Linked DNA regions of Homo sapiens: region 2 is linked to region 1. The links come from fine-mapping of genetic effects on gene expression. Tissue or cell type: whole blood. Region 1 holds a variant in brackets; the other region holds the start of a gene. All regions are shown on one strand. Distances are from middle to middle.

Evidence for each region. PIP is the estimated chance that this variant, and not a neighbour inherited with it, causes the effect.
Region 2: it holds the start of FMNL1-DT, and the variant in region 1 is fine-mapped to the expression of FMNL1-DT in whole blood (TOPMed, PIP 0.98).

Annotation. Positions count from the first base shown.
Region 1 is chr17:45,253,861-45,259,043 of GRCh38, reverse strand. SPATA32 (spermatogenesis associated 32) reads left to right here. Exons shown (of 5, transcript NM_152343.3): 2 at 1,837-1,891; 3 at 2,629-2,668; 4 at 2,971-3,929; 5 at 4,531-4,651. The coding sequence ends at 4,618. MAP3K14-AS1 (MAP3K14 antisense RNA 1) reads right to left here. Exons shown (of 4, transcript NR_110326.1): 2 at 3,826-3,909. Among named protein-coding and RNA genes, the nearest start is that of SPATA32, 5.6 kb to the left of the region's middle. RefSeq lists an enhancer at 2,382-3,142. The variant GTCTT/T (reference allele first, on the strand shown) is at 2,622.
Region 2 is chr17:45,219,804-45,224,914 of GRCh38, reverse strand. It overlaps FMNL1-DT (FMNL1 divergent transcript), which reads left to right and starts at 3,150. Exons shown (of 3, transcript NR_147507.1): 1 at 3,150-3,566; 2 at 4,461-4,647. FMNL1 (formin like 1) reads right to left here and starts at 3,030. Exons shown (of 27, transcript NM_005892.4): 1 at 2,662-3,030. The coding sequence starts at 2,790. RefSeq lists enhancers at 436-485, 1,086-1,155, 1,491-1,991, 1,992-2,492 and silencers at 2,339-2,633, 2,556-2,665, 2,946-2,995, 3,006-3,455.

The DNA of each region.
Region 1 (5,183 bases):
AAAAAAAAAGCTATGAGAACAAATAAGATTTTAGTATAGTTGCAGGATACAAAAGATGGATATATTTCTGTATACTAGCAACAAACCACTGGAAATTGAAATTATTTCGGCCAGGCACGGTGGCTCATGCCTGTAATCCCAGCACTTTGGGAGGCCGAGGCAGGCAGATCATTTGAGGCCAGGAGTTTGAGATCAGCCTGGCCAAAATGGTGAAACCCCATCTCTACTAAAAATACAAAAAGTGAGCTGGGCGTCGTGGCGCATGCCTATAATCCCAGCTGCTCAGGAGGCTGAGTCAGGAGAATCGCTTGATCTCAGGAGGCGGAGGTTACAGTGAGCCGAGATCACACCACTACACTCCAGCGTGGGTGACAGAGTGAGACCCTGCCTCAAAAAAAATTATTTCAATTATTTCATATACTGCAGAATATCACTTGAATCCCTAATAGAACATTCTCAAGTCAGGCAACGAGGTCCCAAGCTGAGTCAATGTCTGACTTTTTCTCCCAGCCCCCAGTGCTGTTAAGAGGCTCACACAACAGTAATTTCTTCTCCTGTCCATACCCAGCTGCCGTTTATGGAGGGGTTGAGGCTGTGGGTGTTGATTAAACTGCCCAGGGAAATTCTGTAAAGGGAGCAAAGGCCCTGAGGTCAGAAGCCTGGGGGAACAGCAGGACCTGGGACAGGGGGAGTTGGAGAGGGAGAAGAGAGACACGTGAGGAAGCCAGGGAAGCATAGTGGTCAAGGAGGTGGAGGGTTCTGAAGAGATCATTGAGCCGGCCACTCTGCTGATACATCCCCCAAGACCAGGCTGAAGCAGATGGTCCCAATCCCAAGACCAGCCATGCAAGGACCCCTCCCTCCAGCCACTACATCTCTAGGAAGAGACCGCAGTACATTCTCATCCTTCCAATATGATCCTGGGAGCGATTCTTCCCAGCCAGAGCCAGGGCTGTCACTTCCTGCCATACCCCAGGCTGATGGGGACCCACCTTGCATGATGGCAGGGTTGTCATGATGGCCCCACCATCAACCCCTATGCATGGCCCTGGGTAGCAGAGAACAGGGCAGCCTGGTGCTTCCCACTCCCACAGGGTGAAGAAACAGCTTCTGCAGTAAAAGATACAAGCCTCCAGGGAGGGGTTTGGGGTTGCGGACGTTCCCAAGGAGTCAGTCTCCCCTGCAGAGGGTGATCTGAGCTCATAAATCGTCGGATAGGTGCTAGCACCACCTCAGATTACACACCTGGGGTGCAGGCCTTGGCCTGGAGTCAGTGATGGATGACCCAGAGAGAGGAGAGGAAGCCGGCAGAGGAGCAGGAATGGGGAGATGGGGGAGGTTCACATGGGGCGTTATTGGGACTCCACGCAGTTACAGGGTCCTGGGAGTAGCCGGTGGGGGCAGGGAGTTAAGAGTTTCCTGAGTCAAGCCTGCATTCAAGTCATCACTTCAGCTATGTTCAGCTGGGGGACCTTGGGCAAATGGACCTGTCCTAATTTTTTGTGTTGAATCAGTGAGATAAAGCAGGTAAAGTGACCAGGCTATGGAAGCGCTCTGTCATGTTCAGGGTACTGTTAGCAGTCACGGTTTTGGGGGATGGAGATGGAACCGGGAGCCTCCGAGGAGGCAAGGCACAGACGGAGAGTGGAGGGAGCAGGACTGGAGGATAGGAATGGCGACCGGCTCGGGAACAAGGAGAGCGGGGCAGGACGGTGAGGGGGAATAGCAGCCGGGAAGAGAGAAAAGAAGGGCAGGAAAAGGGGGCTGGCTCCGGAATCCCTCTGGGACTGTCCTCTACCCTGCAGCTCCCTGCCCTCACCTCCTTTCCCCTGTCAGGTGCCCATGGATTTCCATGCTGCGGCAAAGGGTCAGTGGAGGTTGCAGAGATGCGGTGAGAACCATCCTCAATCAACGTAGGGCCTCCCCCGAGCCCTCCAGGACCTCCGACCTCACCCCCAGCCTAGGATCCCCCAGCCTAGGATCTCCCTCCCTTCTGCCATTTCCAAAACCTCCCCGGGGCCAGTGTCCAGGCCAAAAGGCTGGGGAGGGCGTGGGGCGCCTATCCTCCCACTTCTGTTTATGCCCTCAGCCCCTGGCATGAGAGGAAGACTGAGGGGTGGTGGGGCACACCCAGGGACAGGATAGGACCTGACCCCTCAGAGCTGCCTGGCTTGCTGAGGACAGAGCTGCTCAAGGCGGGGGTGGGCAGGCACTTGAAGAAAGAGTGGGCAGGTGGGTGGGAGGACATTGCTCTGGGGCTCCCCTGCTGGGGACTAGTGTTCTGGGCACTAATCCTCGAAGTGAGTTGCCCCAGCTCACCTGCAGTGCTTGATAAAAATGAGATTCCTGGGCCTTACCTCCAACCAACTGGATTCCTCTTTGGGGGTGGGGCATGAGTTGGCAAGCAGCTTCCTAAACTCACTAAAGTTTCAGAATACAACCGCAGACTTCCTGGTGGCAGTGGAGTGGGACAGCAGGGGAGTGGATGAGCTGGTGGCGGGGTGGTCGGCGGGAGGTGCATCGTGCCAGCTTCTGTTACAAGGCAGAGGGCTTTGAGGGCCCCAGAAACCCCCTTCCCGCTGAAGCCCCACAGATCCCCATCACCCACTCTGTCTTCTTCT[GTCTT/T]AGAGATGACTTAAGTCAACACCAGATACAAGAGGAACAGGAGGTAAAAATGGGAGTGTCCTCTTACGGGGAGGTGGTAGGCAAGCGGCAGGGCTCTTCCCTAAGTCCCCACCAGCCCCTACCCTTGACAATCCTGGGACCCTAGTACCAGGCCGGTGTGGGTACACCCACACACACACCCCCTCACCGGGCAGGTCTCTGAGAGGAGGCAGGCATGGGGTTAGGGGGCGGGGGGAAGACAGCAGGACCCAGGGCAGGGGTGGGGCAGGGACTCGGTGCCAGGGAGGGCCTCAGGGGCAGGACCTCCCGCTCCTGCCTCCTCAGCTTTGAGTTGAAACATTTCAGCTGGAGGCAGACATGCTAGAGCAGAAGCCCCAACTCCAAGTGGACCTGGACCTGGACCCAGACCCAGACCCAGACCCAGAACTGGAGATCGGACAGGTGCCGGCTTTACTGGAGTCAGAGCTATACCCAGCCCTCAAGCTTGAAGCTGAGCTGGACACGGAAGCCAACTCGAACGAGGAGTCTGACTTTGAAGAACCCATGCAGCTGGTATGCAAGATAGAGTCCGTCCACTCCAACATGGGGCTGCCCACGCCACAGACCTTCAGACCGTGGAGTCTGAATTCAAACTGCCGGAGTTTCACGGAGGAGAACCACGTGTCTGCCTGCCATCACTCCATCAGTGCGCAGACCTCCAAGCACCTCTTCTGGGCAAACAAGCTCATCCAGGCCTCAGAGCACAGCCTGCAGCGGGCCATCAACATGCAGCTCAACAATGGCAGCGCAGGCCAGCCCATCAGATCCCCGCTCCGGGAGGCCATCCCCACCAACGCCCTGTGCTCCGAGGAGCAGCTCCAGATCCCTGATGCCCACTCAGCTCCTCCAACCACAAGCTCCCAGGCACCAAGCCCCCTCCTGTCCTCAGATCTCCCGCCACCCATTGACCTGACAGAGCTAATCACCTTTGCATCTTCCCTGGCCATGGCCTCCTCCAGCAGGATGGACCTGCCCAGTTTGGAACACATGATGAAAGCTCCACCCCAGGAGGCTCTGGAGCCTTCCACAGAGCCCCTCCTGACCACTGTGGAGGAGCGAGAGCCAGAAAATCACGCAGAGACCCTGCCAGAGAAACCACGCGAAGCCAGAGCACCACTGAAATCTTGGAGTCAGGAAGACAAGAACTTCGCTCAATCTTACTTTGACTTCAGCAAGCCGGGGATCAAGAGGGCCACCATCAAAGGGCAAATCCAGCTTCTCCAGCCACCAGCCACGTCCCCTCTGCTGCAGGGAAGCAAGGAAGAGTGAGTGAGGCCAGCCCCGCAGCTCCCATAGAGGGGCTGTGCTAGAACGTGGCAGGGGTCCTCACACAGCTGGGTAGGGGTGGGGAACAGTGGAATGAGGGCCTGGGAGCAGGATGTGGTGGGCTGTGACGCCTCCACCTCAGTGACCTCATAAAGGCTGTTGGAACGAGGTTCCAGTGGACTGAGGCGCAGAGCCAAGGCGAGGGCTGGAGGAGGCCTGGGGACCAAGGAGGGTGGGCACAGGGGCCTGGGTTCAAAATGGGAAGGACCACACTGGCATTAGGCGGCTTTCCACCCTGGGGGTCGGGCCTCACCAAGGTTGGGAATGCTCAGGCTGGGGTCTGCCCTGTTGAAAGCCTGTTGGCCCCAACCCTGGGGTCCAGGACACTTTTCTTGAGGGGAGAATGAGGGTGCAGGGCTCTCCAGTACACCTTGCTTTCTGGTAGTGAATGGACACAGAATGTAATCTCAGCTGCCCAGACGCGGGCAGCAGCAGAAGACCCCTTACCCCCAGCGACCTCTTCAGAGGGGCCTCTGGGCTCACCCCTCTCCTTCAACCACCCTCTGGGGCCCAAGTGACACTCTCTCTTTTGTGTTGCAGCTCAGTGCCGCCAGGAAAAGAGAAAGAGAATCCATTATTGGTGAAAATCCATTTTAAGCTGTCAGCCCCCACAATCCCAGAGAAATGACTAGACAGAACCAATAAAGCCTCCAGTGCTGGCCGTCGGCTTAGACTTTTGTGCAAATGCCCCTGGGCCAGGGAGCCCTCCTGGCTGCTGTGTCCTCGTCTGTTTTTTAGGGATGCCACCCCATTTTTTAGCTGCCCCAGCTCCACCTGCCCCCAGAGGGCAATGCCACCCTTGTCCTGGCCACCCATCTCTCACCTGCCCACTCCCCAGGGTCAATTCCCTTCACTCCCTCCTGGCCAGCCCTCTAGGCCAGCAGAAAGACTTGTGGCTGGTCTTGGGGAGACCTCGGTGTCCTGTGAGGCTTCCATTTCTTAGACTGTGAAATGAGGCTTCCTCTTGGCCTGAGGCCAGGGATGTGTTGGGATCATCTGAGGAGATGGCCTTCTGGGCGTGGACTGGGCAGGTGAGAAAGTGGGTCTGAGGGGGTTCTTCCTGCGCTCTTCATGGGGAAGAGCTGGCATGGGGAAGGGATGGTGTCCAGGAGCTTGAAGGGGAGGAAAATGAGGCCGAAGAACTGGTCCTCCAGAGGGTCACAGGCTGGAGCTAGACGTACCTCCAAATGCAG
Region 2 (5,111 bases), 34 kb after region 1:
GGCGTAGGAGAGGCGAGAGCTTGGCGCCCCGCTGGCTGGTGTTCCCACCATCACAGCAGGCCCGTGGGGCTGGGCAGCCATCGCTCCTCTGCTGTTGCTAAGGCAGCAGCCGGAAACCCTGGCTCAACCTGCTCTTTCTCTCCACCCCCATTTTAAGCAGGGGGCACCCCTTTCTTTCACAGCTTTCTTGGAAAGGTAGCCCCCCACCACCCACCCTTGCATGGGAGAAGGGCTCCCTGCACCTCCTGTCTGGCTGTAAGTGGGGACACCCCTCACCCACAAGAGAGGTCCTACAGCCAGGAGAGGAAGGAGAGTTTGGGGTATCAGGATCCTATGCCCCACCAGGGACAAAAGGGGAAGGAAGAGGTTCCCTGGGGCCGCTGGACTACATCCCTGAGGGCAGGACTGTGCTTCTCCCATTGAGACTGGGGACCACTGATGGCGGTGGGCCCCTCCCCTCAGCAATCTAAGGTTCTTCTCCTCTTAGACACTGACCGAGGACAGGACTCAGCTCTGGCCATGGTGGTTCGGGTGGGGGTTCACATAGCGACCAACTCTGCGATACACACTGCCAGACCTGAGGGTTGAACCAACTCTTTAGCCCTGGGCAGCCTCAGGCAGAGGTCAAGGTTGTCACCCTGGGGCAAGCCTCATGCCCCTGCTGGTGGGGAATGAGAGGAACCAGGGTCTTAGCCAAGTGTCCTTAGATTGGGTTTAACCTGCCCACAACAGGATATAAGACAGGCTGAGCCACCCCGGGAAGAAGGTATAAACACACTGGGGTTCCTGGGCACCTGGTAGGGGGTAAGCCCTGGTGGGTGCTGCTACCCTAAATTTCTGCTAGGCACCTCCACTTTCTCCACCAGCACACCCTCTCTGACCCACCTGTGGGTGTCCCCCCTCCACATCCTGGTACTCAGGGACTCCCAGTGGCATTTAGTGTCAGACTCAGCCAATCACAGCCACAAATCCAAGCAGGGCAAACAAGTCCTACACACACATCAGAACCTCACCATTTGACTTGTGGATTTTCCCCTGGTCTGAATTATTCACAGGGCTCCTCCCCATCAGCGTGCTAAACAGAAGATTGGGGTCAGGACCTCACCCCAAGAGCCCACACCCGCGACCATAGACACACACTTGGCGGAAAGACAGACCCATGTCCCTCCAACCAGGTTGGCAGGGGTCCAAGGACCCACCACCAATGCAGGCTCTCCAGATGGCCCCCAGAGACTGTGTCTCCTCATTCTCCCCCCTCCCCCATCTGCTCAGCTCAGCTCAGCTTTGTGAAGTCCTATGCTTGGGGAGCGGGGAGCAGGGCAGGTGGAGAGATGGAGAAGTCAGGGGCCAGCCTGGTGTGAGGCGTCCCTCAGTGTCCCTGCCCTCCTCTAATCAAGCAAGGTGTCTTCACAAGGATGGATCCCTCGCCACCCCATAGCTCCTCCAAACTCCCCCCAGCCTTCTCTTGGGAGAGGACAGAAGCCAACATTTTCAGGAACTGTTAGGAGGTGACCCTCTGGAGCCATGCTGAGGATCTAGCACGTATGGCCTAATGACCAGCCAGGCGAGGGGAAATGATGTCAAGGAGATGGAGGGCCACCAACTGAGCCAGAACCCTCTGCGGCCTGTGTCTCCGTTGAGCCCCCACCCTCAGACCTGCAGGGACTGGGAAATGCATCTGGGAGAAGGCACAGCCTCATTTTGCCTGTCACCCAGCGTCCAGCAAGGGAAGGCTGACAGCAGGCAGGCCACCAGGCAATTAGTTAGAGGAGGGAGCCAGGGCCAGGGCGTCGGGGGTGGGGAGAGTGAGAGTGAGCAGCTCTTCCTCTCCCTACTTCTGCCTTATGCAGGGTCTTGGAGACCCCTGAGTCTGCTCTGGAGCCCCCACCCCACTGAACATGTTGACTGTTTCCAGGCTCGGCCTGAGCTGCTGGTTCCCTCCCAGAGACCTATTCCCCAGCGACCCCGCTCCAATTCCCCAGGTAGGCACAGAGGGGGGTGGTTCCAGATTTTGCTCCACCCCTAGCCTGGGCGACCCACCCGTCCTGACCCCACCCTCCCTCATCTTACTCCCTTCAGTGGCTTGGAAAGGATGCCCCAAGATAAAGACCCACAGGCACCCTGGCTCTGACATATGGCGGGGTAGAAACACAGATACCTCCTGGCCATGATCCGACAACCCCATTCCCCGCAGCCCAGGCGCCCAACAAATCAGGACCCAACACCTCCAGCAGGTCTCCCGCTCCCGGGAGGTTGTAACCCTTTCATCTTTGACTCCAGACACAGAAAGGCAGATGCCCCAGACCCGCGCCCGGTGGCTGGGCCTGCGTGCAGTGGGGAAGGGGGCGACCCGGGACCCCTGTGCGTGCCCCGCTCCCAACTTCTTCACAGGACATACTTGTTTAGACCTTAAGACCCAGCTGGGGTGGAGGCGTCTTAGGGAGGGAGACCGGGCGATAACTGAAGAAAGTTTTGGGGGGAGAGTGCTAAGTCACTCTGAAAAAAAGGCCACTGTCGCTCCCACCTCCTGGAGGGGGCAGCTGCCGGACCGGGGATCTCCAAGCGGCACCTGAGTCCCCGGGGGCGGGGACGCGCGCCCAGCCCCTGCCGCGCCCCTGCCGCCCCCCGCCCGCGCCCGACCCGCCTCCGGGTCGCACTCACCAGGGCGCGGTTGAACCTCTCCTCCAGCTCTCCGGCCGCGGGCATCGGCTGCTTGGGAGGCGCGGGCTGCTTGGGGGGCGGCGCGGCGGGGCCCGCGGGCTGCTCGGCGCTGCCGGCCGCGTTGCCCATGGTGGTCCCCACCCAGCCGGCCAGGCGCCTCCAGCCTCGGAAATCCAGCTTTCCGGGGGACGGGGACGAGGCTCCCGGCCCGGGCGGGGGCGAGGGGGCAGCGGCTGGCGGTGGCGGCGGGGGTCTCGGCAGCGGGGGGCGCTCGGCTCAGCGGCGCGCAGGGGCCGGAGCGCGGCGTCCCATCGGGGCGGCCCCGTCCGTGGGACCGGGCGGCGAGCTGCAGGGTTGGGGGAGGAAGTCAGGCTGCAGGCCGCCGGGGCCAGAGGGCTGGGCCGGGGGCAGGAAGCTGCGGCGCTGGCTCCCCCCTCGGCGATTTTCGAACTTCTGCTGTCGCTCCCCGTGCGCGCAAACCGCAGTTCGCCGCCGCCGCCGCCGGGCACCCAGCCCCAGGGGGGCGGGCTGGAGGGAGGGGGCGGGCGCTGGCCGGGGGACCCCCGCAACCATGGCGGGCGGGGAGTGGGCTGCCGAGCCGCTTCACCTGCCGCAGAGGGGGCGGCCGGCGCCGCTTCACCTGCCGGAGCGGGAGGCCACCGAGGCGAGGCCGAGGCGGCGGCGCGCTCGGCGGCGCCTCCGGGTCCTAGAACCGCATCCTCCCGCTCGCCTCGGGCGAGGGATTGGCCGGGTCTGGGTGAAGGGGATCACGGCCTGGGGATTGGAGGGGCACATCTTCTCCGCACCGAGGATCTCAGCGACTGCGAGCACGGCTCGGAGACCCACGGTGGTGCAGCGTTGGGGCGCCAGGGCTGCGTTCCCGTCTCGCGTCCCGGACTGAGAAGGTGGGAACCCCCTTCCAGGCCCCCCACCTTTTATTTCTCTCCTCCCCTGCTTAGCCCAGAGACGAGCTGAGGACGAGGGGGAGCCATCTCCAAACAGGAACTCCTAAACAGGGTGGGGGGCGCGGACGCAGGCCAGTGGAGACCCCCGCCACCTGTCCCACCTCGACCAACCGTGCGCCTGTGCAGGGCACCCCTACAGGTTTTAGAATGGGGGCACCTATGGAATATGGCAGGCTGCGAGAAGCTGGGCCCGCCAAGGTGGTCCCAAGGAGGAGTGGGGGGTTGCGGAAAGGAGGATGAGAGCCAGCCACAAGGCTGGAAAAGGAGTGGGCACCGCAGAGGAGGGAAAAAGAATCTTGACACTGTCACCGCCAGGGATCTAGGGGGGCCTCTTACCTTGGAGAATAACAATCTCTGATGTCTGCTAATTACAGAAATACTTTCAGAGCTCTTTCATTCATCCTGACAATGGCCAGAGAAGGTAGGTATTGGTAGCCTTATTTTAGAGATGGGGAAACTGAGGCTGAGAGTAGGTAAGTAAGCTGTCCAAGGGCACTCAGCTAACAAAGGACAGAAGCAAGCCTCCTCACTGTCTACCTCCAAAACCTACACTGGCTTGGAGTTGCTGTCCTGGCCCTCCACTGCCCATCTCATGTAGGACGGGAGAGTATGGGGGGCTGGGGTCCCATCTATAGCCTGAATTTGAGACTTTCAGTTGCTCCTCTCATTCCCCATTTAATTTGTGGGGATCCCCAACTGACCCCTCCCTACACTTCCAGGGCACTGAGGAGGGAGGGCCCGCTGAAGGAGCCCCGAATTATCTCTAGGCCAGGTCAGGAGCCATTAGTGTCCCCTCCCCTGACAGCATCCTCCTCCTTCTGCCCTCACATTCAGAGCCACTGACAAGACTTTAAGCAAGAGACGGAGAGTTAACATCTAATCTGGAGGAAGACCCTGGAAGGAGCCAGCCCCTTCCCCCAGGCTGACCTGGTTTAAGCCTTTCTTCTGCCAAGGTCACCAGCACCCCAGATGGGTGAGAGATGTGATCACTGGTTTCGTGGCCTGACCAAGGACCTCCAAGGTGAGTCAAAGCAGAATTCTCCTTGGGCATGCAGGGAAAATGATCCATTCCCTGCACACTGCCATATTCTCCTTCTCAGACAGACCAGAGCCTTGCCCTTGGGTCCTTGCCCTTGAGATTAGCTAGGACCTCCTCCTCTTCTTCTCCTTCTTTCTTCTTCTTCTTGTCTCTATAAGATAACTGTCGTGGAAGACTTTTTTTTTTCTTTTAAGATGGAGTCTCTCGCTGTTGCCCAGGCTGGAGTGCAGTGGCTCGGTCTCAGCTCACTGCAACCTCCACCTCCCAGGTCCAAGCAATTATCCAGTCTCAGCCTCCTCAGTAGCTGGGACCACAGGTGCGTGCCACCACACCCAGCTCATTTTTGTATTTTTAGTAGAGACGGGGTTTTGCTATGTTGACCAAGCTGGTCTCGAACTCCTGACCTCAAGTGATCCGCCTGCCTCGGCCTCCCAAAGTGCTGGGAT